Homo sapiens: one gene and its partners. The protein of the gene in region 1 purifies or fractionates together with the protein of each later gene. This does not show direct contact. Each region holds a gene or a part of one and is shown on either strand. Other genes may lie near its edges.

Region 1 (4,090 bases):
GCAAAAACATTCTTCAGTAAATGTCAACAATTTTTAAAGTTTAAATAGTTGCAAAGCTCTTTTAACTGACAACTTCTAAATCACTAAAAAGAAAAGTTTATAAAGTACTTACACATATTCCTCATATACTATTTACTCAATATGTTTTAAAATTCAGATTAAAAAGGGCTTACCTCAAGAATCAGTAAGTTCTTTGCCGTTTGTTAGATTCTTCTCTTGGCGAATCTGCCAGCATAACTTTAAGTCTCACCCCATTCAGAATCTTTCCATGTAGAGTGGCAATGGCATCATTAGCACTTATTCTATCGGCATACTTGGCATACCCCACATTTTTTCCTGACACAAGGTAAACTTCGATCAGGTTACCAAAACGACTGAAACAAAGTGAAAAAAATAATCAACCAAAATTGATAAATACAACTGCTCAGGTCTAAAATTTGGAGTCCATTCTTGACTCCATTTTCACCCTTCTCCCCAGATCCAACATCCAACTCATGTCAATCTTAAACATCTCAGTCAATTCTATTCATTCTCATTCAGATCTCTCTTCTCATTCAGACCATCATCTTTTCCTTAATCTAACTCCTTTTTCACTAGTTTCCTTACCCCTGAGCTTGTCCCTCTTCAATCCATTTTTCACTCTGTCTTCTGAGTGATCTTTCTAAAACATAAATATGATCATTTACTCCCTAAAAGTCCCCTCAGCAGCTCCCCATTGCCTCCATGGTGACAACAAATTCCTTAATATAGCTCTAGAGCCGTTCTGACATTGTCCTTGGACTCTTTAGTTTCATCTTCCTTAACAATCTCTCAAATTCCCTATTTAACAGCCCTTCTTTTACATTCTCTATGGCAGAAATAACCATGCATACCCCCAGCTTTCACCTGTGGAGAAATTATTTTTATACTTCAGGTCTCCACATACACCTTCCTTCTTTCAAGGCTTCTCAGAGTTTCTAAGGTAACTGCTCCTCCTTTGTATCTTACACATTCCTTATCACAGCAACAATCACCCTGGGTTGTAATTTTCTGTTTACTTGTCTGTTTCCTACATGAGATCAGCTCTAAGAGGACAAGAATCATAATGTCTTGTCCATTTAATATTTTGTTTACATGTCTCTTGTACTTAGCACAGTTCCTGCCTTGAACAAAGAGGAGGTTCAAGAAGAAAACTAAATATATCAGTTAAATAAAGGTCAAAATACTTGAACCATATCCTGATATTTTTTTCCTTTTGAGCCTCAATATACTATCACATTATGTCCCTGATATTTTGTGCAGCTCTTTAACAAGCTTCCTGTCTATCAAATTCACTAACATTCTTGTAAGGCAAATGGGAAAAAGGCCTAAAAGAAAAAGCAAAGAAAGGAGTTATGTTAAAAACACAAAAATAAATAAGAACCTTCCCTTTTTTATTATAAAAAACATTTATGTATTTTTCCCTACAATCAAGTAATTGTTTACACAATGCGACTGCATAACCCTTAAGGATCCTACAATGCACCAACAAAACAGAAGATGCTTAGCAAAAAAAACACAAAAAACAAAAAGGGTCTCACTCTGTCACCCAGGCTGGAGTACAGTAGCACAATCTTGGCTCACTGCAACCTCGACCTCCTGGGCAAAAGCAATCCTGCCACCTTAGCCTCCCAAGTATCTGCGACCACAGGCATGTACCACCATGCCTGGCTAATTCTTGTATTTTTTGTAGAGATGGGGTTTTGCCATATTGCCCAGTCTGGTCTTGAACTCCTGAGCTCAAGCGATCCCCTGACCTCGGCCTCCCAAAGTGTTGGGATTACAGGCATGAGCCACTGCACCAGGCCCACTTTATGTTTCAAAAACAAAATAGCAGGAAATTCTCTATGGAGCCTTAGGATGTGTGACTGATAAACAAGAGAAGAAAATAATCAGAAATTGAAAAAGATGATACAAATAAGGAGGTTTTAAAAGCAGAGAACTAATACTCTCTACTTGATAGGTACTGGGTGAAGGAAGTGTCTAGATTATAAGAATAATTAAATTACTAGTGTAAATAAAATATAACAAAAAATGTAACTTTCTTACCAGAATATATCTTCTAATACGTCTAAAGGTAAAGGATGAGGATTAAACACAATAAAAAGTCTTTCTTTCACAGGAGTTTCAGCAGGAGCTTTTTTTTTGCATGATGGAAGTACAACATCTGTCTGGATTTGAGGCAACTGTGATCCAGAGCTTCCTCCAAATTGCTGTTAACAGGTAGAAAACAAGAAAAAGAAAAAAATGCCCTTTAGGGATTTTTGGCCAAGAGCTAAAGACAGATATGTATCATGGCATCTATGTGGTCTTCCACAATAGCTCTGAAAATTTTCATACACAGATAATCAACAAAGCATGATTTCTCTTCACATTTATTTTATATGCTATTGATATATTATAAAGGTTAAATTCTTACCTACTTACCATAAATTGTTGCTGACTTGGGTTATTCCACACCATTGATGCAAGCTGTGCAGCTACCATCTGTGTTGCCATTTTTCTAAGGAGACTGGAAAAAATAACTGATAATTTACAGAAAACTAAAAATATTCAGTCTTTTAACAGTAGCTTGTTTTGTGTGACTTTCTCACCTGAGAGGTCAATTGTTTCTATTTTTATTCTTCAAGTCCTATCAATCATGTACACTCAAAGCTCGGCTTTAGACACTCCTGGAATGGTACTTACTCTGTTGCATTACTTCCATCATCAATGAAGGAAACACCTATTCGGTTCCCAGGAGGGTACTGAAATCCATGTAATTTGTATTTTGCATAAATAGCTGATGCTACATTAAAATACTGAACCACTCCATGACCTAAAATAGAGAACATACAGAAATGAAAAAGGAAAGCAGACTGAGTGCCTAAGGCCTATGTTACAATCTATCACAAAAATGAAACCATGTAGAACTCTAATATCACACAACTAGTAAATACAGAATCGAATGTATCAGAAAACACAGTTCTGTTATCATGTGTGCAACAGGTGTATTCCTAGAAAAGGAAGAAATAATTTAGGGAAAAATATGAACATGATATTTTAGGGAAAATGGAATATTAACATACGTCCTGTCTAATAAGTTTAGTTTTAGGATACTAGCTTTTCTTATATGATACCAATATACTTAAAAGTCTAAATTTTTATTCTTTGAAATCTACTTTGAAATTTTAAGATTTTCCCAACCATACTGGGTAGGAAATGAAATGAGAAGTGATAGTTGAAAAGAATATATACTCATCCCGGCTATCTGCAGCAGTAGGGAGAGGAAAAGTGATTTGAATGAAAAACAAAAAGATAGGGAACAGAGGATCTCAGATCACAAGTGATATATTTTACTTTCCTTTGGAGAGATTTCTGCCAAAGGGACGAATTTCAATTTAGGAGGGTGATGTTGAAGGGAGGGACAATGTTATAATGCATTCCTTAGAGAGCCCAGGAGTTTGTGACACAACTAAAAGGTTTTCACTTTTATAATACAAACCACTGGGGAAACACTTATAATTTATGTTCATCTGGAAACCCAAGCATCCAACATTTTAATGAAATTAAAATAAAACACAGAAATCAAATGACCATATAAAGTTAATTCAAATGAGATTCGAACTATATGATGACACCTCTATTAATAAAAAGATGTTCCAATGACACATATATTTCAGACACATCCAACCAGAGAAACAAAACAGGAGGTACAGGAACAAATACATTTTGACATACCAGATAAAAGGGAGGGAACAAAACAAAATGAACACAACTTCATATGCATATAACAAATGTGCCAGAGAACACAAAAATGTGTGCCTAGAAGTCTTAGAACAGAGAATGACGCATATGATCGGGTTAAGACTGGGGATGGCTCAAAGACAGTTCTACAAAAAGACTAGTGCTGGGTTGGGTACTAGTGAGTATGTGGGGGTGTCTGTATGAAGGGTGGAGTTACCTTAGTCCTGTTGGTCCACATGACCAAACTCACGTCACTACTTCTATGTCAATAGCCATGCCACTCTAAAAGGACTAAATCAGGTATCCTTACAAAACTGGAAGAGATGCCAACCAAGTATGATTTCTC
Region 2 (4,090 bases), about 160 Mb from region 1:
AGACTGGAGTGCACTGGCATGAACACAGCCCACTGTAGCCTCAACCTCCGGGACTCAGGCGATCCTCCCATCTCAGCTGCCTGAGTAGCTGGGACCACAGGCATGTATCGTCATACCCAGCTAATTTTTAAATTTTTTGTAGAGATGGGGGTCTATGTTGTCCAGACTGGTCTTGAACTCCTGGGCTCAAGTGGTCTCCCACCACAGCCTCCCAAGTAGCTGGGACTAAAGGGTTGCACCATGATGCTTGTCTAATTGTTTTTCTTTTTTTTTTTTTGTAGAGGGAGGGTCTTGCCACATTGCTCAGGCTGGTCTCAAACTCCTGGGCTCAAGTGATCTTGTCACCTCAGCCTCCCAATCTGCTGGAATTATGGGCAAAAGCCCCCATGCCTGGCCATGATAACCTTAAGCATAAAAATGGAAACCATACCAATATATCTGCCAAAGGATATCCATCGATTTTAATTTTTCCTCCAGTTATAACATACGGGAGGAAATGAAAGCCCAAGGAGGTTAAATGTGTAGCCTAAACACAAAGACAAACAGTTATCTGAGTGTTACATGCTGTATTACCTTGTGCATGATTATCTTTCTCTGAGCAGGTTCAGCCATATCAATCATCTTTTGAACCACGTAATTGGCATACTGGTCCTTCATCATGGTGTATAAGGCACTGTGAGGACCATCATTCTGGCAGCAAACCTCGTCAATCAGTAAAGCTCTCTCAGCACGGGAGGCATGAGTAACACACTTTTCTACTACATTGCTAAAAATTAAAGCAGATAAACAAAGATTTGTTATTTTTTTCTTCACAGCAAAATTTCCTTGACTTATAGAAAGAATCTTCTCCAATGAACAATAAAACAGAAGTCAGGATGGGATTCTCTTGTCTTATGATTACTTTTATTTTATTTTGTTCTTTTTTTTTTTGAGACAGGGTCTTGTTCTGTCACCCGGGCTGGAGTGCAGTGATGCTATCACCGCTCACTGCAGCCTTGACCTCCCTTGCTGAAGTGATTCTCCCACCTCAGCCTCCCCCATAGCTGAGACTACAGGCATGCGCCACCACGCCTGGATAATTTTTTGTAGAGAAAGGATCTCCCTCTATGTTGTCCAGGCTGATCTCGAATTCCTGGGCTCGACTGATCCTCCTGCCTTGATCTCCCAAAGTGCTGGCTGGGATTACACGTGTGAGACACTGTACCCAGCCAATTACTTTTATAACAGAAATTGGTATCTTGGAACAACCTACATCATTTTGACATCCACAAGTTTAATTACAGGTCTCTTAAAATTGTACTTCAAAAAAAAGGAAACCAGATCATTAAAGCTGTGAGGTTTTCAAGAAACATGTACTAAATAAATCTGCATTTCCAGTGTCGGGAGTAATTATTTTCCAAATACAGATTTCATAAATGAACATATGTGGGCAAAACAAATTTGTTATGTAGATTTTTTTAAAAAACAAAAGCAATGTTCTATAGGTGCATTTTAATGATACCAAAAAAAAAAGACTACAGTTTAATGCTACATGCTACACGTATTTCTGTGATAACTAATAAAAGTCAATGAGTTGAAAGAATTGACCCTTAAAATTACAAAGTATTACAATACCTGGCAAATTTGTGTTGACTCAGGGCTAAAACCTTTCCCCTGATTTCGGAAACAATTTTGCTCTTGTCTTCAGGTCGACCGTGTTCCAGTACATGCTGAATAACATAATTGCCATACTGATCCTAAGACAGATATTTAAAAATTACTTTCCCTAAGTCATTCCTTAAGAATGATATTCTTTAAAGACATGTTAATCATTTCATCTAAAAATCCAGTAGGATAGTTAGGAGAATACAACAGCCTTTTGTCTCACTCTTGTCTATAGTGTGTTTAGTAACAAATTGTATTTCTTTTAAAAATTAAAACAATTTCCAAAAATATATAAACATTTCAAATTATTAGGGAATTTATACCTGTACCAACTGCTCTGTATGTTGGTGGAGTTCTTCTAAGATAGGTAAGGTCTGTTCTGCAGTGCAATGCTCTAGGATGCGCTGAATTACTCTGCAGCCATAAGGATGAGTTGAAAGCACAAATACCTGAGGACAATTAGAAGAATTAAAATTTGTATTCTCTGACATTTTTGAACAGTTCTATGAAGCAGACTGGTTTGTTTTTTTTTTTTTTGACAACACCTAAAAGCAGTTTGAAATAGAAGGGTGATGAACTCACATTTAATATGACTACCACCATGTTAGAAAAGACTGGAGAGTGGGGACAGGGAGCACTCCATTTAGGAGCTGAAGATATTTTGATCAAAAGGAACCTAACCAGAACTTTACCTGAACCTGAGGTTATGTAACAATGGGAATGAATGGGTGAAAAGAGAAAGGGTAGTTCAGCATTAAGAAATATTAATTACTATGTATTAGTTACAAATTGCTATGTGTTTTCTGTCTTATTATACAGTCTTATGTCTTTCTCCAAACCTCCTTCCCTTCTCTGAGTAAACCTGAAAACATCGTTGGGTATAAATAAAAAACAATTCTAACAGTGATTACCTTTACTTCTTAAAGTAATGTGATTAAACTATTTGTTTTGCAGCTTCAGAAAAATGAAGCTATCTACTGACTATGAAAGAGGAAGAAATTAATGTACATTTACTGTTTTGTATCCTATTTTTGTATACAATTGCTGGGTATTATCTAGTGACTCATGAAAAACGTGTTGATATTCAAAATTCTAAAATAATGCCCTGCTAACAAATTATAAGCCAAAACTCAAACATACTTGTCCCTTGAAAGCATCAATGATGAACTGTAGTGACTGTGGCTGAACACATTCGATACATTTTTGTACAACATGGTTTCCATTCTGATCTTTCACACATTTGAGCACATGACCATCCAGCTCCTTTACCATTTCACTCTGCAAAAGACAGGATGTCATTTAAATTATTACCTCAAACGAGAAAATACTAGTATATTTTATCTCAGTATTAAAAATTAAAAATATTAAAAATCTCAGTATATTTATCTCAGTATTAAAAATACTGAGATGGGAACACAAATATATTCACAAATATTATTTCCTGTTTGTCAAGGGTTTAAATTTTTTTCTCTTGTAGTATAATTAGCAGAAACCATTGAAAAGTGAAAATTACTAAAACACACTGCAGGATTATAATGTAAATGATGTATGTTGAAACAACGTAGTGATGCTGAACTTGCTGTATTTAAACTGTCTTCACTGTGTAAATCATCCGCTAATATTTATCGGGCGGTAACTAACATGACTAATTCAGAATTACACACTTCCGCCTTACTTAGTACCACCTCCACCACCAAAGGAATTATTTTTAATGGCTGAGTGAGTTTATCAAGTACATAGAAAAGGCTAAGAAGTTGATGACTACTTATGGGCTATGATTTTTACATATTATCTCAATAATTCCCTAAGGGAAGAATTAATGTCAGGTATCTTTGTTCTTTTATAAAATGCTCTTATAATAAAGTGCTTATAGCCAGATGCGATGGCTCACACCTGTAATCCCAGCACTTTGGGAGCCTGAGGCTGGTGGATCACCTGAGCTCAGGAGTTTTGAGACCAGCCCGGGCGACATGGCTCCGATTACTACCAAAAATACAAAAAACTAGCCAGACGTGGTGGCGCATGTCTGTAATCCCAGCTACTTCGGAGGCTGAGGCAGGAGAATCACTTGAACCTGGGAGGCGGAGGTTGCAGTGAGCCAAGATTGTGCCACTGCACTCCAGCCTGGGCGACACAGCAAGATTCCGTCTCAAAAAAAAAAAAAAAAAAAAAAAAAAAAAAGAAATCCAAATAATATTGTTATTCATTAACTGTTTCAACAAAGACTTACTGCTAATGCTTTTATTTTTAAATATCAAAGACATTTTAAAAATATCTATACCAGTTAGAAACTTGTGGCAGAGAAGTTTCTAAGCTTTTAAATAATTAAATGTGTTTATATTTCTCCATTGTGACACACATTAAAATTACTGTAAAACTCAGAATTTCCTCTGGAGGAATAATAGTATTTTCTCACAGATTTTAATGCAGTGATGAATATATACAC
Region 3 (4,090 bases), on another chromosome or scaffold:
GCCTTTTTTATATTGCCTGCCAAAATTTGAAGTATTAGAAGAAAGTGTGCCATGAGAGAAAAACTTAAGGAGTTTTGAAAAGTAATGCAAATAACAAAACTGCAACACTATTTTTAAAAAGATAAATATCTGAGTTAAAATTACTGAATCTTTATTTTACACCTAAAAAAATATGAGAACAAGGTACATGCATTATGTGTCACATTACTGGGCAAACTGTTCAAGTATTTTTTTTTAAACCTCCCTGTATAGAAAAAAATCATTAAGGATGTAAAAGCCATGCTTGCCTATTTGCTGTATACATGTAATGAAATTGTAGATAAAGTGTAGTGCATTGAAACAAATGAACAAAAAGTAGATACTTTTACTATACAAGGGTGCTGGTGCAGAAAAAAATATATATATTTTTGGAAATGTAGCATTTTATACTTTCAAGTGTTATAAAAAAAAAGAAAAAGAACAAAGAAACCCTTTATTTCATTAAATGATTTTTTCTGGTGGTTGTCAAGAAACAAAAGACCAAAAGAGCCTTTTTGTCTTTCTTTTTTATTTTTTAAGTATTGGAATAAGTCTAAAGAAAAGAAAGTGCCTTATTTTCCTTCATGGTCATTCAGTCAAGTGTCTCATAAAGATCAGCTCCTCCCTCAGAATACAAGTTAATGCATGTTACTCAGTCGCCCAGTATGTGAAAGAAGATATGAGGGAGACAAATGAGTTGATAGTTTGAATTATAGGATTTTTGCCACGTTACCTTGATGCAAATTTGCCAAATCTGATACTGTGAAAAGATTTGATAACTTTTCTAATGCCTGACTAGTAAGTTTTAAAACATCATTCTTTAAAAGAATAGTTTAATACTTTTGGTTATTCCAATCTTCAATGTTAACCCAAAGGATTCTGAGATAAAAATTATGTGTCATCTAAACTTCAGTTTACAGACAAAATTAGAGCTTTGTTTTATTTGGAGAAGGGGGATGCATTCATTTGATTTTGTTTTTTGTTTTTAATTAATTGAATATAATAGGATACCTAGCAAATGTTTTCACAAAAGTGAATCTTTGTGATTTTCATTCTAGAAAACAATGTTTTAAATCACCCAAATTTAATCACATGTCTTTATATCATACCAGATAACTGGTGTAGTGTATCCTTTTACTGTTTCAATAACCTCTGCCTCCCCCACCCCTTAACTTTAAAAGAATGTGAAAAACTAGCATCATAGTGCATATAAATACTCAACCACATTTCAGCTTAAGCTTCTAATTTCTCAAGAAGTTGAAACAGTTAGTTATGTAGTTGAAGCAATTTGTGTGCAAAGCCTACATCTAAACACTTGAGTGAATAATCATTAACTGCTCAGTACCAGACGTGGCAAATCTCAAGTGACAGTGGACCCCCCCCCCCGCCCAGCTTATCAACTCGTCCCCTCTTCCACACCTTCCCAGCATCACAGTCAGAGGTCAGCAGGAAGCTGAGTCATTACCTTCTTGGTGACCTCCCCCACCATCTTGTCTCACTTGGAAACCGTTGTCAGTTTATTTACTATGCAATAGACATTCATTGTTTTGTATCCAGCTAGCTTTGGTTTAATATGCCACTGCTTTGTCTTTCTGTTACACATACAGTTTTGATTTATTTACAATATATGCTGTGCCATTTTGATTTTTATATTGTTTGGTTGGTTGAATAAATTTGCGACACTCAAACACTTGAGGTGATAGTTGTTAAAAACAATACCAGTATTTGATCCAGTTTCATCTCAACTATGTTATACCTGGACATTTTAGATGTTTATCAAAGGTCTTTTATGGGGAAGAAAGTAAATGTATGAAATAATAAATGTGTGACATTTATAGGGAATGTTGGCTCTGAACAAACTTTTGAAAACTTGGTTGACAAAATTTTGGATCAACTGAAAAAAGCATGACTTTTGAAATCTCTGAATGCCTTGGTTCTCAGTATTATCATTCTTTATTGAATTTATTTCTTATTAAAATATGTAGTTTTTAAGACTTTTTTTCTGACAGTATTATGTAATTTTTTAGCGTGGGTAGATGGGAGTGTCGCTTGTATGTTATCGTACAGCTGACATGTATTTTTGTCTATTCTTTATTATCTTAGTTTCATGCTATGTATGTACCATAACCAACCTATTGCCTATGAGAAACATGTAAGATAATGTATTTACAGCCATTGTTACAAGTTTATAATGTATTTTTCTATCTTGTTTTATATGTATGTTATATAACATTCAAAAAGAATTTTTTTCTTGATTGAGAAAAGGATACAAAATGCAAAATCCACAATTTTGATAACTGAAAATTGCCAATTGTTTTGCAGTACTTTATTATATTGGGTGTCTTGTCTTTTTTGGGCTTTTAGTTAGCTAATGAATGAATACATTAGACACTTTTGGGTTTTAGTTGGGATTTTACATAGCTTGCATTTTAATTCTTTGGTTCTTTGCTGTTTCTATTAACCCACAGCATTATTTTAATAAATGTTATAATACCAACCTACTAACTCTGGACTTTGTCTGTTTATTAACCTTTATATGTTTAATTAAAATAAACAAATAAAGACAAAAGAATGTAAAGTCTTGAGTTACTGGACTAACCCTGAAGAACGTGACCACAGATAACATAGTGTGACTTGTTTTTATGTTGTTTGTCAGCTGACAGTTTTGCACACTACTGTTAAAATGGCTTTGGTTATTCTGGTCTTTTAGCTTGGGGGCCGGGGCGGGTGTGGGTGTAGGTGCAGTAGAGATGGGAACAAAGTAGCCTTTGTTTGAGGCATTCTTCTCTTGCCACTTGCCTTTCAGCATCTGCATTACTAATTCCACACCTTATTTTTCCTTCTCCAAAATAATCACTGTCTGCTCACAGCATCGAGTAAAAAGATACATTGTCATGGTATATACCTGGAGAAACCAGTTTGATTCTTTGTTGAACCATTTCTTTTAATTTCTGTAAATAAGTAATTTTATGGTCACATTGTAAAGCAGAGAAACTGTTGATATTTTACCTTTATTTAGATTTTTGTTTTAACTTGACCTTTTTCCTTTGGAAAGCGTTGAACTTGTTTAGCTAACTACTCCTATTAGGGGAGCTTAACTTGGGTAAAGTCAAAGGCCCACTGGCTGTTTCTCATGGTGGCCTGAAGCCCCGCTGCTTTCCAGTGAGGAAAAGAACCCTCAGCACGTTACTGAGCTTTCCTCAGGTATTTTTTTCTCTGTCACCTACTTTACAAATACAGTCAGACTAAAACATTAAACAAGAAGTTTAAGGGGGAATAACATTGGGATTTGAAAAGTTGTATGTGATTAATTTCTTGCATGCAAATCAATTTAAGATTTCTTAAATATCTTCATGCTTTTCTTGGCTGGAACTTGGGTAAATTAACCTGTAATTATGAATTATTTAGTTTAACTCAAGGTGCATTTTTATTTCACAGATTGATACTTGCTTTTTTCTGTGAAACAGTTCTCCTAGATACCAAAATCCTCAGGATGAATTTTTGCATTTGTAAATAACAATTTATCTTTGTAAATTACATTTTATTTATTTAGAGTTCTAAAATTGAGGGCTGAAATGAATGACATGTAATAGAAGACAAAACTGTACCAATACGCTGTTAACCAATCAGACTGTCCAGGTATTCTCATTTCATAAATATGTATACACACATATAAATACACAGAGTAGTGTTAGCTGATGTGAGTGATAACAGCGAATCACCATTGAGATGGTCATTTGGATCATGTAAACAAACCGTGTCATGTCTCTGATGGGAGCGGTGGGTAGTGTACTGTTAGGTGGACAGGTCTTTTAACATGCTACTATTTGTAAAAGTTTCCGTTGCCATAACAGTTCATGTAGTAGTCTGTGAAAATTCGAAGCTGTCTGTCAAGCTGCTAATATACAAGTTGTCATGGTACCATGTAACTTAAATTGATGAATTTCTATGCAATTTACTATTCTCTGAAGCCTATGAATGCAGCCTCATCTCATTTTCAGTTAAGGGTACTTTATGTATAATTATGTCATTGCTGCCTTTTATGTAGGAAATGTAAAAAAGTTTTAAAAGG
Region 4 (4,090 bases), on another chromosome or scaffold:
CTACAACAAGTAAATGCTACTAGCATTAGCTATTAAATCACTCAAACATCAATCTTATTAAGCCTACTAAATTCTTTTTCTAGTAAACCTAGTGATATACACTTGGGGTCTTGGAAGGATACTGCCTAAATTTCAGTCATAGCTCTACTACTACTAATTGAAACTCACTGTTGCTTCAGTTTCCTCATTTGTAAAGCAGGGAAAATAGTACATATATGGTTGTCACAGGTATTAAATAATGCACATGTGCATTCCAAGCACTCTGAACAGAGACTGATGCTAATCAATTTGTGTTAACCATTACTATGAAATAATTGTGTAAATTTACATTTATTTACACATATATGCTCTATTCTCAAGAGAAAACAGATTAGAATAAAGAAAGCTAGAGCAACCAAATCTATTATTTGGGAGTTGTCAGAAAAAGTAGGACCATATTAGTCTATTAGATGAGGAACTGGCTTACTCAAACATCCTAAAACATGGCAAGATAAGCTTAAAAAGCCTTTATGGAGATGGTACTAAGAATAATAACTTTTCTAATCTGTTTTCTCAGAAAAACAAAGTATTTTTGGGGCAACTTAGTATAAAACATTTTACCATGGATGTTTCTGAGAGTTGGGAAAGAGTAGTTTGTTTTATGAACCAAAAAATATTCTTATCAATCTTAAATTGCCTTATTCTGGCTGAAAAAGTCCTATGGCCTACTTCTTCCACCACATCTTTCTCCCCTTCACTATACTCCAGTGATAATGGTTCTTTCCCTCTGTCCAACTCCCCATGCTTACTTACACCTGTTCTCCCTCTCCCATTCCTTCCACTTTTGCACTTTTTCTCACTTGTCAGAGAAAGCTTCCCTGATTGCTCTATTTAACCTAACAACCTCTCCTATTAATCTCATCATATCATTCCTATTTCTATAATAGCAATCTTTACTATCACACAGAATTCTGTTTGTGCATTTGTTTTTTATTTATTGGCATATAGTAAGGGATCAATAAATATTTGATGAATGAATGACAAAACTATGTAGCTCTTCAAAGAATCAGGTAATGACATAGAAAGATAGCTAAAGCATACCATAGTGAGTGAAAAAGCTTGTCACAGAATACAGTATGATCCTATTTTCATAAAAAGTTAAAAGAAAAAAACTACATTTTGATGGATGAACATCTTATGCTAATATATTAAATATAAACATCAATAAAATACATAAGATACTTACCACTGGTTTGACAATGTTGGAAAGAAGTGCTTCAAATGCTTTAGTTTCTTCATCTTTTTCTTAAAAAAATAAAACATTTGAATATTTAAAAAAAAGAACTTAGATACAATCCCTTCTTCTCCCTAAATATGTATTCTGAAACTAGGTTGGTATTTGAGACTTTTATTTTCTAGTTTTTATTCCTTTGTTCATACTCAGCAGTTTGTGGCCCTTCAGCATTTATCTACTTTAGTTTTTATTTCTATCTTAACTGTGACTACTAATTATAACACCACTATATACAGATATATCTATATATATTTAGACATAGCTATATCTATCTGAACCAAATTTTTCTTATATCAAGTATATTTTTATTCATGGTTGTAAGAATATTCTCTCTGGAAAGTTCTCATTTGTCAATCTCATACCTCTTAATAAAGTTAACTATTTTTTCATGACATGCCTTAGTTATGGTTTCCCAAATTAGAAATATAATTGGCTTGACTGTAACTTATAGCCACCACTGATAGGCAAAAAACTTTAACTTAATTTCTTCTGAAACATCAGTGCTGAAAACGATGATCAGGTCTCAAATAAATGGGAGAACATTTATGTAAATGTTGTTAATATATAAGTCATGAACAGTTAAGACATTATTTGAAATTTGTTAGTGAGGCATGGAAATTTTAAGGAAAAGGAAGGTAGGAAGAGTTCACATGGCTTACATTTTGATATTTCCCTCAAAGTTGGAAGCATTTTAGTTCCTAGTCATATATTAATTACCTACACTATTTGATAGTAAATATCAATTTAGATAAGCATATTCAAGGACTGATAGAGTTGTGGTTATTGGTGCTTGTGAAATGACATGTTGGTATGGTTCATAGTCATTTCTGATGAAACCTTTAGAACCTGACATGGTCTACCATGCATATCTATGTATTTCTACATACGCATATCTACGTCAAACAGATAATAGTCAGTATTAAGGAAACCTAAAAGAACATACATATAGAAACTACATTAATCAAAGTAAGCAGTAGTTACAAGCTTAACATTACAATCAAAAGTACTGGGTACTAACTCCACAACTGTAGGCATATGAAAGACAGGCTGTTAACCCAGCTATATTTTACCTTATAGAGATTGATTCAAGTATATACAAATAATAGTGCTCAAAGTCCATATAGTAGGCTCATGCCTGTAATCTTAGCACACTGGAAGGTCAAGGTGGGTGGACTGCTTGAGCCTAGGAGTTGGAGACCAGCCTGGCCAAGATGGTGAAACCCTGTCTCTACTAAAAATACAAAAAGTAGTTGGGCGTGGTGGCATGCGCCTTTAGTCCCAGCTACTCAGGAGGCTGAGGCACGAGAATCGCTTCAACACAGGAGGCGGAGGTTGCAGTGAGCTGACATTGCGCCACTGCATTCCAGCCTGGGTGACAGAGCGAGACTTGGTCTCAAAAACAAACAAACAAACAAAAACCAATAAAACAAAGTTCATAGAGTAGAAGTCAGAGGTTAGGGGAAGGATCCAAGAGTAACAAGGAGAGTTTAGGAGAAAAGAACTTTTGAAGAAAGAAATGAAAAATACTCTATCCTAATTACAGAGTATATAGAGAGATTAGTAAATGATATAACTATTTGCTATCAAGGTTTTACTCAAAAAGAAGGTGGGAGAAATAAAAAGTTTTGATAGGTTGGGGACAGTGGCTCAGGCCTATAATTGCAGCACTTTGAGAGGCCAAGATGGGAGGACTGCTTGAGCCCAGGAGATCGAGACCAGCATGGGCAAAACAGCGAGACCCTGTCTCTACTAAAAATTAAAAAATTAGCTGGGTGTGGTGGTGTATGCCTGTAGTTTCCAGCTGCAGTTATCTATGATCGTGCCACTCCAGCCTGGGTGACAAAGCAAGACCCTGTCTCAAAAAAAAAAAGTTTTGATTAAAAACCAGCAGCATAGCCTTATCAAACGCCCAGAATCAGAAGAAAGGAATCTGGATTAATGTTCTCTGAGTTTTCCTATCAAATAGAAATTTCAGTCAGTAAAATTTACGATATAGATGAAATTACTAATTGAGGCTTTCCAAACTGTCGAAAGCAGCAGCCTGTAACAGTCTATTTGGACCATGACAAAATGACTGAAAGGTTAGAATATACTTTTAGTAGGTTAAATCACGAGAATAGCATCAATGAGAACAGTTCAGTACTTCAAACAGTTACCTTCAATTTCTGTATCAACTTGTGTACCACCTTTCCCCTTCCCAGACTTGATTTTTGCTGATCCTGTGTTTATACCACCAGCAATTTGTCCTTTTATAAGTCCATTATGTTCATTAATGGGAGAAGGGCATTTCTGGGGTGATGATGGTGGACTGCTCATTTTATCTTTCTGTGTTCCTTGGCGATCCTTCAATTTTTTCTGCAAACGTTCATATGTTTTACTAGATCGTTCATCTCTAAAGTTGGACCTTCCATGTGTAGAGTGAGCATCTAGGAGGCAATAAAAACAAAATGTTAAGAAGATCACTTTCTCCAAATAAGTTTATGCCATGAAAAAAGAACAGAAAATAAATCTATCATATAAAACTTTTATAAAATATTTAAAAGAATTTTGCATAACAAAGCAACCTTTGTGTCTCCATAAACTATCAGAACCAAGCTTTGTGATTTATTCTAATTATATATATCTCTCTCTCAAGTAAATTTACAGAGAGATTTATTTCCTTCTGTTCTCAACTAATTATTAATCTCCATAGAAACAGCTTGGTGGTAACTTATGATTATTGTAGGTGAGGAATGAGACTGGAGCTGAGCAGTCCACAGTTCTTTTTCTTTTACTCTTTAGTAACTATTACTTTTCACATCTTTTTGAACCTTAAAC
Region 5 (4,090 bases), about 130 Mb from region 1:
TACTTCTTGATTTTCTACCTTCCTCCCAAAATGGATTACCTAATTTAGTAGTAACACACACAGATTTATGCGCTTGACACTATTTCACATTACAGGCATACCTTGGCTTTAATGCACTTTACAGATGTTGCGTTATTTACAAATTGAAGGTTTATGGTAACCCTGCCTTGGGCAAGTCTATCAATGCCATTTTTCCAACAATATGTGCTTACTTTGTGTCTCTGTGTCACATTTTGGTAATTCCTGGAATATTTCAACCTTTTTCATTATTGTTATATCTGTTACGGTGATCTGTGACCAGTGATCTTTGATGTTACTATTGTAATTGGGGGATGCTATGAACCATACACATGGAAGATGGCAAACTTGAGAAACGTGTTCTGACTGCGATGCTGACTAGTAATTCTCCTGTCTTCCTCTACTCAGGCCTCCCTATTCTGAGACACAACAATATTGAAATTAGGCCAATTAAAAACCCTATTATAGCCTCTAAGTGTTCAAGTGAAAGAGTCATACATCTCTCATTTAAATCAGAAGCGAGAAATGAAATGATTAAGCTTAGCTTAGTGAGGAAGGCATGTCAAAAGCCGAGATACGCTGAAAGCTAGGCTTCTTGCGTGGAACAGCCAGTTGTGAATGCAAAGGAAAAGTCCTTGAAGGAAATTAAAAAGGTGCTACTTCACTGAACACACAAATGATAAGAAACTGACACAGCCTTACTAGTGACATGGAGAAAGTTTTATTGGTCCGGATAGAAGATCAAACCAGCCACAACATTCCCTTAAAAGCCAAAGCCTAATCCAGTGCAAGGCCCTAATACTAGCAGAGGCTGGTTCATGAGGTTTAAGGAAAGAAGCCATCTCCATGACACGAAAGTCCAAGGTGAAGCAGCAAATGCTGATGCAGAAGCTACGGCAGGTTATCCAGAAAATCTAGCTAAGACCACTGATGAAGGCGGCTACACTAAACAACAGATACTCCATGTAGATAAAACAGTCTTATATTAGAAGATGTCATCAAAGATTTCATAGCTAGAGAGGAAAAGCTAATGCCTAGCTTCAAAGGACAGGCTGACTCTATTTTCAATGGCTAATGCAGCTGGTGACTTTATGTTGATGCCAATGCTCACTTACCATTCCCAAATCCTAGGGCCCTTAAGAATTACGCTAAATTTATTCTGCCTGTGTTCTATAAATGGAACAACAAAGCCTAGAGGACAGCATGGATGTTTATACATGGTTCACTGAGTATTTAAAGCCTGCTGTAGAGACCTACTGCTCAGGAAAAAAAAGATTCCTTTCAAAATATTACTGCTCAGTGATAATGCACCTGGTCACCCAAGAGCTCTGAAGGAGATATACAGGGAGATTAATGTTGTTCTCAGGTGCCCTAATAAAACATCCATTCTGCAGCCCATAGATCAAGGAGTAATCTTGACTTTCAAGTCTTAACACATTTTGGGCTCACTTCGGCAACACATATACTGAAATTGGAATGATACAGAGAAGATTAGCATGGCCCCTGCACAAAGATGACACGCAAATGTGTAAAGCGTTCCATGTTTTAAACATAAAATTAAAAAAAAAAAACATGTTTCATAAGGCTATAGCTGACACAGACAGTGATTCTTCTGATGGATCTGGGCAAAGTAAACTGAAAACCTTCTGGGAAGGGTTCACCATTTCTAGATGCCATTAAGAACATCTGTAATTGATAGGAGGTCAAATTATCAACATTAACAGGAGTTTGGGAGAAGCTGATTTCAACCCTCATGGATGAACCCCTTGAGGGTCTCAAGATTTCTGTGGAGGAAATCACTGCAGATGTGGAAATAGCAAGACAACTAGAAGGAGAAGTGGAGCGTGAAGACGTGACTGAATTGCTACAATCTCATGATCAGACTTAACATGAGGAGAAGCTGTTTCCTATGGATGACCAAAGAAAGTGGTTTCTTGAGAAGGAATCTACTCTTGGTAAAGATGCTGTGAACACTGTTGAGATGACAACAAAGGATTCAGAATATGACATAAATTTAGTTAATAAAGCAGTGGTATGGTTTGAGAAGATTGATTCCAATTTTGAAAAGACATTCAATTGCAGATAAAATGCTAACAAACAACATCGCATACTACAGAGAACTCTTTCGTGAAAGGAAAAGTCAGCTGATGTGGCAAACTTTATTGTTGTCTTAAGACATCTCAACCTTTAGCAATCATCACCCTGATCATTCAGCAGCCATCAACATTGAGCCAAGACCTTCTACCAGCAAGATTATGACTCACTGAAGGCACAGATGATCGTTAACTATTTTTAGCAATATCTTAAAATTAAGGTATGTACTTTTTAAAAACATAATGCTATTGCACACTTAATACACTACACTATGGTGTAAACATAACTTTTATATGCACTGGGAAACCAAAAAATTCATGTAACTTTGTTCATTATATTTGCTTTATTGTGGTGGTCTGGAACCATATCTTCCAGGTATGCCTGTGTTTAGTTACTGGAAATTTGATAAATTTTATGACTATTAGCTCTATTTTGAAATAATACAGAATGTTCTCCCTGTAAGGACGGAAAAAGAGAACTGACTTACTAATTCTGATTCTTGAGTCTGTTGTCCTCCCATAGATAAAATCAATGAAGCAATTCTTTATTTACCCCATGCCTCCAGTGAGCAAATCAGTGGGCCACAGATGGAGAGGTGATCATGATTGAGAAATGCTAACATTTATTTTGATGACTGAGGAAACTTTAGACAATTTCCTTTCATATGTGATTGTCTGGCAATCAGGGAACAAACTGGTTAAAAGACCAGAATTTGAACTGGGACGTAAAAACCTTGGGCTACTTTTTAATCAAGGGTCTGTCATTTCAAAGGAGTAGCAGGCAAGCAGAGAGGGTACTGAAGGAGCAAGAAGGCCAGTTAAGTGAGTCTCAAATGTGTACTTGTTTCAGGTGGCAGGCCCTTGGGGAGACTGAACTGGTTTCTGATATATAAGTCCAAGAGGATTTCCAGGTCTTCCCAGGAGCCTGGGATTCTACTCAATATACCCGGACTGCTCGGAAGATGTTCAGTGATACTTTTTAATGTTAAAGTTATATGCATAATTTCATATTTTTCTTAATAGTTTAAAAACATATTCCAGAACTGAGTTATTTATATCATAATTATCTGATATTTAGGATTACTGCCTTTGAGCTGAAGACTAAGACTTAGTTCACTATACTACAAGTCATTTACATGATATAGTCACTTAAATAATAAAGCCATTTAAATAAATAATATAGTCAAATTAAACTTATATTACCATAGCTTTTCATGAGGGAATTGTATGCTTCTTCCTTTTCATTTAATTCAGGAATCAATTCTAACACAGATTTCACAGTTGATGCCTAGGAAATTACATAAAGGTAATATTATGAAAACCGCAAATTAACAGTGAATTAGAACACTGACAAATCAACACTATATTAAAAATTTTCACAATAATTATAACAGAACTACCTATTAAATTTAATGCACTATTGTCCCTTGTATATTAGCATTTGATATTGACTCAATAATCTACAGCTAAAAGAAACCAGCATTTTTCCACAGGTTAATGCAATTCCACTTACATTTCTATGAATATTTTTCTAGAATATGATAAACACATTGCTTCTTTTGTCAAGTGGTGACCATACCAAGAAGTTATGAGATCCCAAGGGTAGAGAGATAACAACCCTATCTTTAGGTGCCACAACTGGTTGATGAAATTGTAAAGAATTCAGTTAAAACATTCTGAAGTGTTACACACTTGACATACAAAAAAGAGCATTTCCAGAATCTCACTGAAATTTTTACTTATTTCTTCCAGGAATATGCAGACTCGGCTATGGCTTTATTTCCTGTAGCGAGTGAATACAGAACTGCTATGCCGTAATGAATATCTGCTGAGTATTTCCCGCCCTACTCCAACGTTACTGGATAAACCCATGATGGATATATAAACATCTATGCCCTCTTCCCATCTCACCAAGAGGAGCAAAATCTGGCTTAACTATTCTACTGTCAAGCAATGGAACACTGTTAACAGGCATCTTA
Region 6 (4,090 bases), on another chromosome or scaffold:
GCCTGACAACAAAGCAAGACTCTGTCTCAAAAAAAAAAAAAAAAGTTTCTTTTGGTAAAATCAGGCTGGGTGTGGTAGCTCATGTCTCTAATCCCAGCACTTTGGGAGGCAGATGCAGGCAGATTGTTTGAGCTCAGGAGTTGGAGACCAGCCTGGGCAACATAGTGAGACCCCCATCTCCACAAAAAATAAAAAAATCAAGCCAGACGTGGTGGCATGCACCTGTAGTCCCAGCTACTCGGGAGACTGAGGTGGGAGGATGTCTTGACCCTAGGACACGAAGGTTACAGTGAGCCAAAAGCATACCACTGCACTCCAGCCTGGGCAACAGAGTGACATCCCGTCCCTCCCCCCACAAAAAAAGGTTAAAATGGTAATTTTTGTGTTAAGTATATGTTACCACAATTTAACAACAACGACAACAACAAAAAACACTACAAGGAACCACTCCAAAGAAAGGCATTCACGGTGTAAATGGCAGACACAAATTTATTCTTCATAAAGGAACAAATTCATCTTACAGGATTTTCTTTTTTTTGAGATGGTGTCTTGCTCTGTCGCCTAGGCTGGAGAGCAGTGGCAAGATCTCGGTACACTGTAACCTCCACCTCCCGGGTTCAAGTGATTCTCATGCCTCAGCCACTCAAGCAGCTGGCATTACAGGCACCTGTCACCACTCCCAGCTAACTTCTGTATTTTCAGTAGAGATGTGTTTTTTTGTTTGTTTGTTTTCCTTGAGACATAGTCTTGTTCTATGGCCCAGGCTGGAGTGGAATGGCGTGATCTTGGCTCACTGCAACCTCCGCCTCCAGGGTTCAAGTGATTCTCCTGCCTCAGCCTCCCGAGTGTCTGGGATTACAGGTGCGCACCACCACGCCTAGCTAATTTGTTTTTGTTTTTTGAGACAGAGTGTCACACTGTCACCCAGGCTGGAGTGCAGTGGTGCGATCTCAGCTCACTGCAAGCTCCGCCTGCCGGTTTCACACCATTCTCCTGCCTCAGCCTCCTGAGTAGCTGGGACTACAGGCACCCGCCATCACGCCTGGCTAATTTTTTTTTTTTTTTTTTTGTATTTTTAGTAGAGACAGGGTTTCACCATGTTAGCCATGATGGTCTCGATCTCCTGACCTCGTGATCCACCCGCCTTGGACTCCCAAAGTGCTGGGATTACAGGTGTGAGCCACCGTGCCCGGCCAATTTTTTGTATTTTTAGTAGAGACGGGGTTTCACCATGTTGGCCAGGCTGGTCTCAAACTCCTGACCTCAAGTGAGTCATGGCCTCCCAAAGTGCTGGGAGTACAGGAGTGAGCCACCACACCCAGCCAAAAAAAATTTTTTTTAATGCTTACCGGGGGGGAAAACGAAGAAAGAAAACGAACAGGAGGAAGGAGTAACACTAATGAATCTTGCAGGGTCTATTTCTCTGCCCTTTCCTCATATGGACATAATACATGCCATCGTCCTCCTCTGTCAAATTATCTCACAGATGAGATCATGTAATTTAAGTGCATTAAAGTCTAATGCCAAAGCCAGTTACTAATTTTAGTTCACTTCCAATACCTTATTTATTTTCTTGAAACCAATTACGGTCTGAAAACTCAATCTAGATAAAATTCTACTCACGTCATGTATGTGTTATAGTCAACAGTAAGAGCTAAATTTCTAGATATAACAAATTAAAATGAACAACATATAAAGCATACATTCTCAGGTTTCATCAATCCAACTGTCAAGCTCTGGCCAGGCGCGGTGGATCACGTCTGTAATCCCAGCACTTTGGGAGGCTGAGATGGGCAGATCACCTGAGGTCAGGGGTTCCAGACCAGCCTGGCCAACATATAGTAAAACCCCTTCTCTACTAAAAAATACAAAAATTAGCTGGGCATGGTGGCGCACGCCTGTAGTCCCAGCTACTTGGGAAGCTAAGACAGGAGAATCACTTGAACCCGGGAGGCAGAGGTGAAGGTTGCAATGAGCTGGGATCCCGCCACTGCACTCCAGCCTGGGTGACAGAGGGAGACTCCATCTCAACAAAACAAAACATAAAAACAATGTAACAGTCACAGGGGAAAATCCCACAGAGGAATAAGTCCTTGCCCTTGCAATTCATATTCTCCAGAGTTCTTGGAGATTAACGTCATAGTCGATATTACTAGTAAAATTTTCGCTTCCTCAATTTCCCAAAAGTCTTTATAATAGTACTTTTATGACTAATATTTCTTGAGTGTCTACTACATGCCAGACAGCAACCTAAGCACTTAAACTCTATCCTTGCAACAGCTCTTAGAAGCGAAACATGTTCTATTATCAACTCCATTTTTAAAAATAGGGGCCAGGCGTGGTGGCTCAGGCCTGTAATCCCAGCCTTTGAGAGGCTGAGGTGGGCGGACCATCTGAGGTCAAGAGTTGGAGACCAGCCTGGCCAACATGGTGAAACCCTGTCTCTGCTAAAAATACAAAAATTAGCCAGGTGTGGTGGCGCATGCCTATAATTCCAGCTACTCGGGAGGCTGAGGCACAAGAATCACTCGAACCCGAGAGGCAGGGGTTGTAGTGAGCTGAGATCATGCCACTGCATTCCAGCCTGGGTAACAGAGCAAGACACTGTCTCAAAAAATAAAAATAAAAATAAAAAATAGGCCGGGCACTGTTGGCTCACACCTGTAATCCCAGCACTTTGGGAGGCCGAGGCGGGTGGATCACCTGAGGTCAGGAGTTCGAGACCAGCCTGACCAAAATGGAGAAACCCCGTCTCTACTAAAAATACAAAATTAGCCAGGCGTGGTGGTGGCACATACCTGTAATCCCAGCTACTCAGGAGGCTGAGGCAGGAAAATCGCTTGAACCCAGTAGGCGGAGATTGCGGTGAGCCAGGCGCGCCACTACACTCCAGCCTGGGCAACAAGAGCAAAACTCTGTCTCAAAAAAAAAAAACAAAAAATAGGGAAACATACAAAGATGAAGTGAAATGCCCAAGGTCGCACAGGCAGGAAACGGCAAGGGCCAGGACTGGAATCCAGGCAGTCAGACTTCAAACTTGTGTCGCTAGCCATAAGCTATAAACCCTCTCTCAATTTATAAATTTGTCTTCCCTCTCATGATATATTTTTTAAGTAACTAGTTCTTTAAAAATCCTACATAGAGTGTTGGCCAGGCGTGGTGGCTCATGCCTGTAATCCCAGCACTTTGGGAGGCTGAGGCAGGTGGATCATTTGAGGTCAGCAGTTTGAGACCAGCCTGGCCAACATGGTGAAACCTGTATCTACTAAAAATACAAAAATTAGCCGGGCATGGTGGCACACACCTGTAATCCCAGCTACTCAGGAGACTGAGGCAGGAGAATCGCTTGAACCTGGGAGGCGAGAGTTGCAGTGAGCCGAGATCGCGCCATTGCACTTTAGCCTGTGCGACAGAGGGAGACTCCTTCTCAAAAAAACAAAAACAGAAACAAGTTACAACCAAAGGAGAATGAGTCAATCCTCCAACAACTCTGACAGTTCCTGGCTATACTGAACTTTCTCTTACTTTCTCAGTAGGCCAAAGTGGTAAAAAGCAAATGAGTACTGCCAGAAACAGGCATGGAATACCAAAACAAGAATTTTACAGAGGAGAAAACAAACAGGAAGACAGCAGGGAGAGTTCCAGAACAAAAGGACAACAGTAAAGGACGACAGGGCAAGAATGGAGAATGAAGAATTATCAAGACAATACCTTCACCTCTTCCGATGACGTACCCACACAATTTTTACAGGATACACACATCCTTGGCTGGGTGCGGTGGCCCAGCACTTTCGGAGGCCAAGGCGGGCAGATCACCTGAGGTCAGGAGTTTGAGACCAACCTGGCCAACACGGTGAAACCCCGTCTCTACTAAAAATACAAAATTAGCCGGGCATGGTGGCGGGTGCCTATAGTCCCAGCTACTTAGGAGACTGAGGCAGGAGAATCGCTTGAACCCAGGAGGCGAAGGTTGCAGTGAGCCAAGATCACGCCACTGCACTCCAGCCTGGGTGACAAAAGCGAGACTCTGTCTCAAAAATAAATAATAATAAAATAAAATGCAATAAAAAAACACACATCTTCTAAGACA
Region 7 (4,090 bases), on another chromosome or scaffold:
TGTTTTTATAATCCAGTACTCCTTGATTAGTGCAGTAACCTTAAATGGACTTTGTTTAAAAACATCTACACAGTGTTTAGCCAATCAGAATCATGTCCAACATTGATTGGAGTCTACTGGGGCCAACACTCCGGCTCCTGACTCCTGTTCCCTCTCATTCTCAAATTGTGGGGAGGTGGGGAGTGGAGGGCTGACCTGGGGCGGAATCTTTCAGGTCCATAGCAGGTCTGCCCTGATGGCCTCCACTCCCCAAGGGATGCTGGAAATTTCAGCCCATAGGATATGGTATATCACAGAGAAAACTTCAATACAATATCAACAATGATAACATTTACTTTAAGAAGTTACATTCCGGCCAGGCGCGGTGGCTCACGCCTGTAATCCCAGCACTTTGGGAGGCCGAGGTGGGCGGATCACGAGGTCAGGAGATCGAGACCATCCTTGCTAACACGGTGAAACCCCGTCTCTACTAAAAAAATACAAAAAAATGAGCCAGGCATGGTTGTGCGGGCCTGTAGTCCCAGCTACTCAGGAGGCTGAGGCAGGAGAATGGCGTGAACCCAGGAGGCAGAGCTTGCAGTGAGCCAAGATTGTGCCACTGCACTCCAGCCTGGGCGACAGAGTGAGACTCCGTCTCAAAAAAAAAAAAAAAAAAAAAAAAAGAAGTTACATTCCATAGACACCTTCTATCCAAATGAAAATAAAAAGTGTGTAATTTGACATTCTAATTTAAAAGAAAACCAGAATATTATAAAATCTAAAACATTTTAAGTGAATATTACTTAAAAAACAATACTCCCTGACCAACATGACCCCGTCTCTACTAAAAAAATACAAAAAATTAGCCAGGCACGGTGGCAGGCGCCTGTAATCTCAGCTACTCGGGAGGCTGGGGCAGGAGAATCGCTTGAATCCGGGAAGCAGAGGTTGCAGTGAGCCGAGATCGCACCATTGCACTCCAGCCTGGGCAACAAGAGTGAGACTCTGTCTCAAAAAAAACAAAAACAAAAAACAAAACTCGGCTGGTTGCAGTGGCTCATGCCTGTAATCCCAGCACTTTGGGAGGCTGAGGTGGGCGGATCACCCTGAGGTCAGAAGTTCGAGACCAGCCTGGCCAACATGAGGAAACCTCGCCCCCAGTAAAAATACAAAAATTAGCCAGCTGTGGTGGCGCATGCCTGTAATCCCAGCTACTCAGGGGACTGAGGCAGGAGAATCGCTTGAACCCGAGAAGCGGAGGTTGCAGTGAGCCAAGATCACACCTCTGCACTCCAGCCTGGGCAACAGAGCGAGACTCCATCTCAAAAAAATAAAAATAAAAAATAAATTTAAGAAAAAAAAAAAAGAAACAATACTCTATTGCTACGAAATGGTAAACTGGCTAGGCACAGTGGTTCACACCTGTAATCCCAGCGCTTTGGGAGGCTGAGATGAGAGGAGCACTTGAGACCAGGAGTTCAAGACCAGCCTGGGCAACATAGTGAGACCGCATCTCTAAAAAAAATTTTCAGAATTAGCCAGGTGTGGTGGTACATGCTTGCAGTCTTAGCTACTCAGGAGGCTGAGGCAGGAGGATCACTTCGCCCAGGATTTTGAGGTTTACAGTGAGCTGTGATCACGCCACTGCACTCCAGTCTGGGTGACAAAGCAAGACCCTGTCTCTCTTAAAAAAAAAAAACAAAAAGTAAGGCGGGTGCAGTGGCTCATGCCTGTAATCCCAGCATTTTGGGAGGCCGAGGCAAGCAGATCACCTGAGGTCGGGAGTTTGAGACCAGCCTGACCAACATGCAGAAACCCCGTCTCTACTAAAAATACAAAATTAGCCGGACGTGGTGGTGCATGCCTGTAATCCCAACTACGTGGGAGGCTGAGGCAGGAGAATCACTTGAACCCAGGAGGTGGACGTTCCAGTGAGATGAGATTGCGCCACTGCACTGCAGGCTGGGCAACAAGAGCGAAACTCTGTCTCAAAAAAATTTAAAAAAAAAAAGCAAAATTTAATGGCTAGGTGGGGTGGCTCATGCCTGTAGTCCCAGCACTTTGGGACGCCCAGGTGAAGGATCGCTTGAGGCCAGGAGTTCAAGACCAGCCTAGGCAACACAGTGAGACCCTGCCTCTAAAAAAAAAATTTGTAAGTTAATTTGCTTGCAAATAGACTCTTGATTTTGCTTTTTTTTTTTTTTTTTTTTTTTTGAGACAGAGTCTCGCTCTGTCACCAGGTTGGAGGGCAATGGCGTAATATCAGCTTACTGCAACCTCCACCTCCCGGGTTCAAGCTATTCTCCTGTCTCAGCCTTCCAAGTAGCTGGGACTACAGGCACACGCCACCATGCACGGCTAAATTTTTTTGGATTTTTAGTAGAGATGGGCTTTCATCATGTTGGCCAGGATGGTCTCGATCTCTTGGCCTCATGATCTGCCTGCCTCGGCCTCCCAAAGTGCTGGGATTACAGGCATGAGCCACCGTGCCCGGCCAGTTTTGCTTTTTAAAAGTCCCTAAACCTCTAGCCCAATATGTCAATTTAGGCTCATGTACCATTCTTTTTCCTGTACTAATCTAAAAAAACGATACTATGAGAATCAAGACAGGATCTTTTAGAGACAGAATTTACAGAGCTCTAGAACATTTCATAGAGATCCAAAAGAAAGCGGTCTTCCTTGTAATGCAGTCAGTAATGGTGTTTTGTTTTGAGACAGAGTGTTGCTCTTGTTGCCCAGGCTGGAGTGCAATGGCATGATCTCTGCTCACTACAACCTCCACCTCCCGGATTCAAATGATTCTCCTGTCTCAGTCTCCCTAGTAGCTGGGATTACAGGCACCCGCCACCACGCCTGGCTAATTTTTGTATTTTTGGTAGAGACAGTGTTTCACCATGTTGGCCAGGCTGGACTCGAACTCCTGACCTTGTGATCCGCCCGCCTCAGCCTCCCAAAGTGCTGGGATTACAGGCATCAGCCACCACGACCGGCCATAATGCAGTAATGTTTAAAAATCTTTGTAGTGGGCCAGGCTTGGTGGCTCACGCCTGTAATCCCATCACTTTGGGAGGCTGAGGCAGGCAGATTGCCTGAGGTCAGGAGTTCGAGCCCATTCTGGCCAAGATGGTGAAATCCTGTCTCTACTAAAAATACAAAAAAAATTGGCCAGGCACGCCTGAGCGCAGTGGCTCACTCCTGTAATCCCAGCACTTTGGGAGGCCGAAGCAGGTGGATCACAAAGTCAGGAGTTCGAGACCAGCACGGCCAACATGGTAAAACCCCATCTTCACTAAAAATACAAAAAATTAGCCAGGCGTGGTGGTGCACGCCTGTAGTCCCAGCTACTCAGGAGGCTGAGACAGAAGAATCGCTTGAACCCGGGAGGCGGAGGTTGCAGTGAGCCAAGATTGCACCACTGTACTCCAGCCTGGGTGACAGAGTGAGACTCCATCTCAGAAAAAAAAAAGAAAAAAATTGGCCAGGCACGGTGGCTCACACCTGTAATCCCAGCACTTTCGGAGGCAGAGGCAGGCAGATCACAAGGTCAGGAGTTTGAGGTTAGCCTGACCAAAATGGTGAAACCCCATCTCTACTAAAAATACAAAAATAAGCCAGGCGTGGTGGTGCGCACCTGTAATCCCAGCTACTCAGGAGGCTGAGGCAGGAGAATCGCTTGAACCCAGGAGGCAGAGGTTGCAGTGAGCCAAGATCCCACCACTGCACTCCAACCTGGGCAACAGAGTGAGACTCCCATCTAAAAAAAAAAAAAAAAATACAAAAAAATTAGCCGGGCTTGGTGGCATGAGGCTGAGGCAGGGGAATTGCTTGAACTAAGGAGGTGGAGGTTGCAGTGAGCCAAGATTGCACCACTGCACTCCAGCCTGGGCGACAGGGCAAGACTGTCTCAAAAACAAAAAACCTTGTAGCTCAATGTGTCTCTTAAGTAATTTACAGATAAGTAAAATGCTATTATATCAAGATTTCCTGCATAATGAAATACAATTTAACTCCAGGTAGAGTCACTTGGGGATGGTTCCAGGACAGAGACTCCACAATGACTAAAAATGATACCCTTCTGGCTGGGCACAGTGGCTCATGCCTGTAATCCCAG

Evidence for each region.
Region 2: the proteins of RBM45 (region 1) and PUM2 purify together in Homo sapiens (affinity purification with mass spectrometry; one large-scale study listed by BioGRID and IntAct). This does not show direct contact.
Region 3: the proteins of RBM45 (region 1) and QKI purify together in Homo sapiens (affinity purification with mass spectrometry; one large-scale study listed by BioGRID and IntAct). This does not show direct contact.
Region 4: the proteins of RBM45 (region 1) and FNDC3A purify together in Homo sapiens (affinity purification with mass spectrometry; one large-scale study listed by BioGRID and IntAct). This does not show direct contact.
Region 5: the proteins of RBM45 (region 1) and LRPPRC purify together in Homo sapiens (affinity purification with mass spectrometry; one large-scale study listed by BioGRID and IntAct). This does not show direct contact.
Region 6: the proteins of RBM45 (region 1) and GTF2I purify together in Homo sapiens (affinity purification with mass spectrometry, with the first as the bait; one large-scale study listed by BioGRID). This does not show direct contact.
Region 7: the proteins of RBM45 (region 1) and DHX30 purify together in Homo sapiens (affinity purification with mass spectrometry; one large-scale study listed by BioGRID and IntAct). This does not show direct contact.

Annotation. Positions count from the first base shown.
Region 1 is NC_000002.12:178,122,268-178,126,357, reverse strand, and holds part of RBM45 (RNA-binding protein 45), read right to left. Parts: intron 2,837-4,090; coding exon 2,707-2,836; intron 2,531-2,706; coding exon 2,446-2,530; intron 2,232-2,445; coding exon 2,068-2,231; intron 375-2,067; coding exon 182-374; 3' UTR 174-181; intron 1-173. UniProt on the Homo sapiens protein: RNA-binding protein with binding specificity for poly(C). May play an important role in neural development.
Region 2 is NC_000002.12:20,253,249-20,257,338, forward strand, and holds part of PUM2 (pumilio homolog 2), read right to left. Parts: intron 2,923-4,090; coding exon 2,785-2,922; intron 2,094-2,784; coding exon 1,968-2,093; intron 1,737-1,967; coding exon 1,615-1,736; intron 767-1,614; coding exon 574-766; intron 1-573. UniProt on the Homo sapiens protein: Sequence-specific RNA-binding protein that acts as a post-transcriptional repressor by binding the 3'-UTR of mRNA targets.
Region 3 is NC_000006.12:163,571,278-163,575,367, forward strand, and holds part of QKI (KH domain-containing RNA-binding protein QKI), read left to right. Parts: 3' UTR 1-4,090. UniProt on the Homo sapiens protein: RNA reader protein, which recognizes and binds specific RNAs, thereby regulating RNA metabolic processes, such as pre-mRNA splicing, circular RNA (circRNA) formation, mRNA export, mRNA stability and/or translation.
Region 4 is NC_000013.11:49,135,941-49,140,030, reverse strand, and holds part of FNDC3A (fibronectin type-III domain-containing protein 3A), read right to left. Parts: intron 3,700-4,090; coding exon 3,430-3,699; intron 1,285-3,429; coding exon 1,226-1,284; intron 1-1,225. UniProt on the Homo sapiens protein: Mediates spermatid-Sertoli adhesion during spermatogenesis.
Region 5 is NC_000002.12:43,891,231-43,895,320, forward strand, and holds part of LRPPRC (leucine-rich PPR motif-containing protein, mitochondrial precursor), read right to left. Parts: intron 3,400-4,090; coding exon 3,315-3,399; intron 1-3,314. UniProt on the Homo sapiens protein: May play a role in RNA metabolism in both nuclei and mitochondria. In the nucleus binds to HNRPA1-associated poly(A) mRNAs and is part of nmRNP complexes at late stages of mRNA maturation which are possibly associated with nuclear mRNA export.
Region 6 is NC_000007.14:74,663,791-74,667,880, reverse strand, and holds part of GTF2I (general transcription factor II-I), read right to left. Parts: intron 1-4,090. UniProt on the Homo sapiens protein: Interacts with the basal transcription machinery by coordinating the formation of a multiprotein complex at the C-FOS promoter, and linking specific signal responsive activator complexes.
Region 7 is NC_000003.12:47,805,807-47,809,896, reverse strand, and holds part of DHX30 (ATP-dependent RNA helicase DHX30), read right to left. Parts: intron 1-4,090.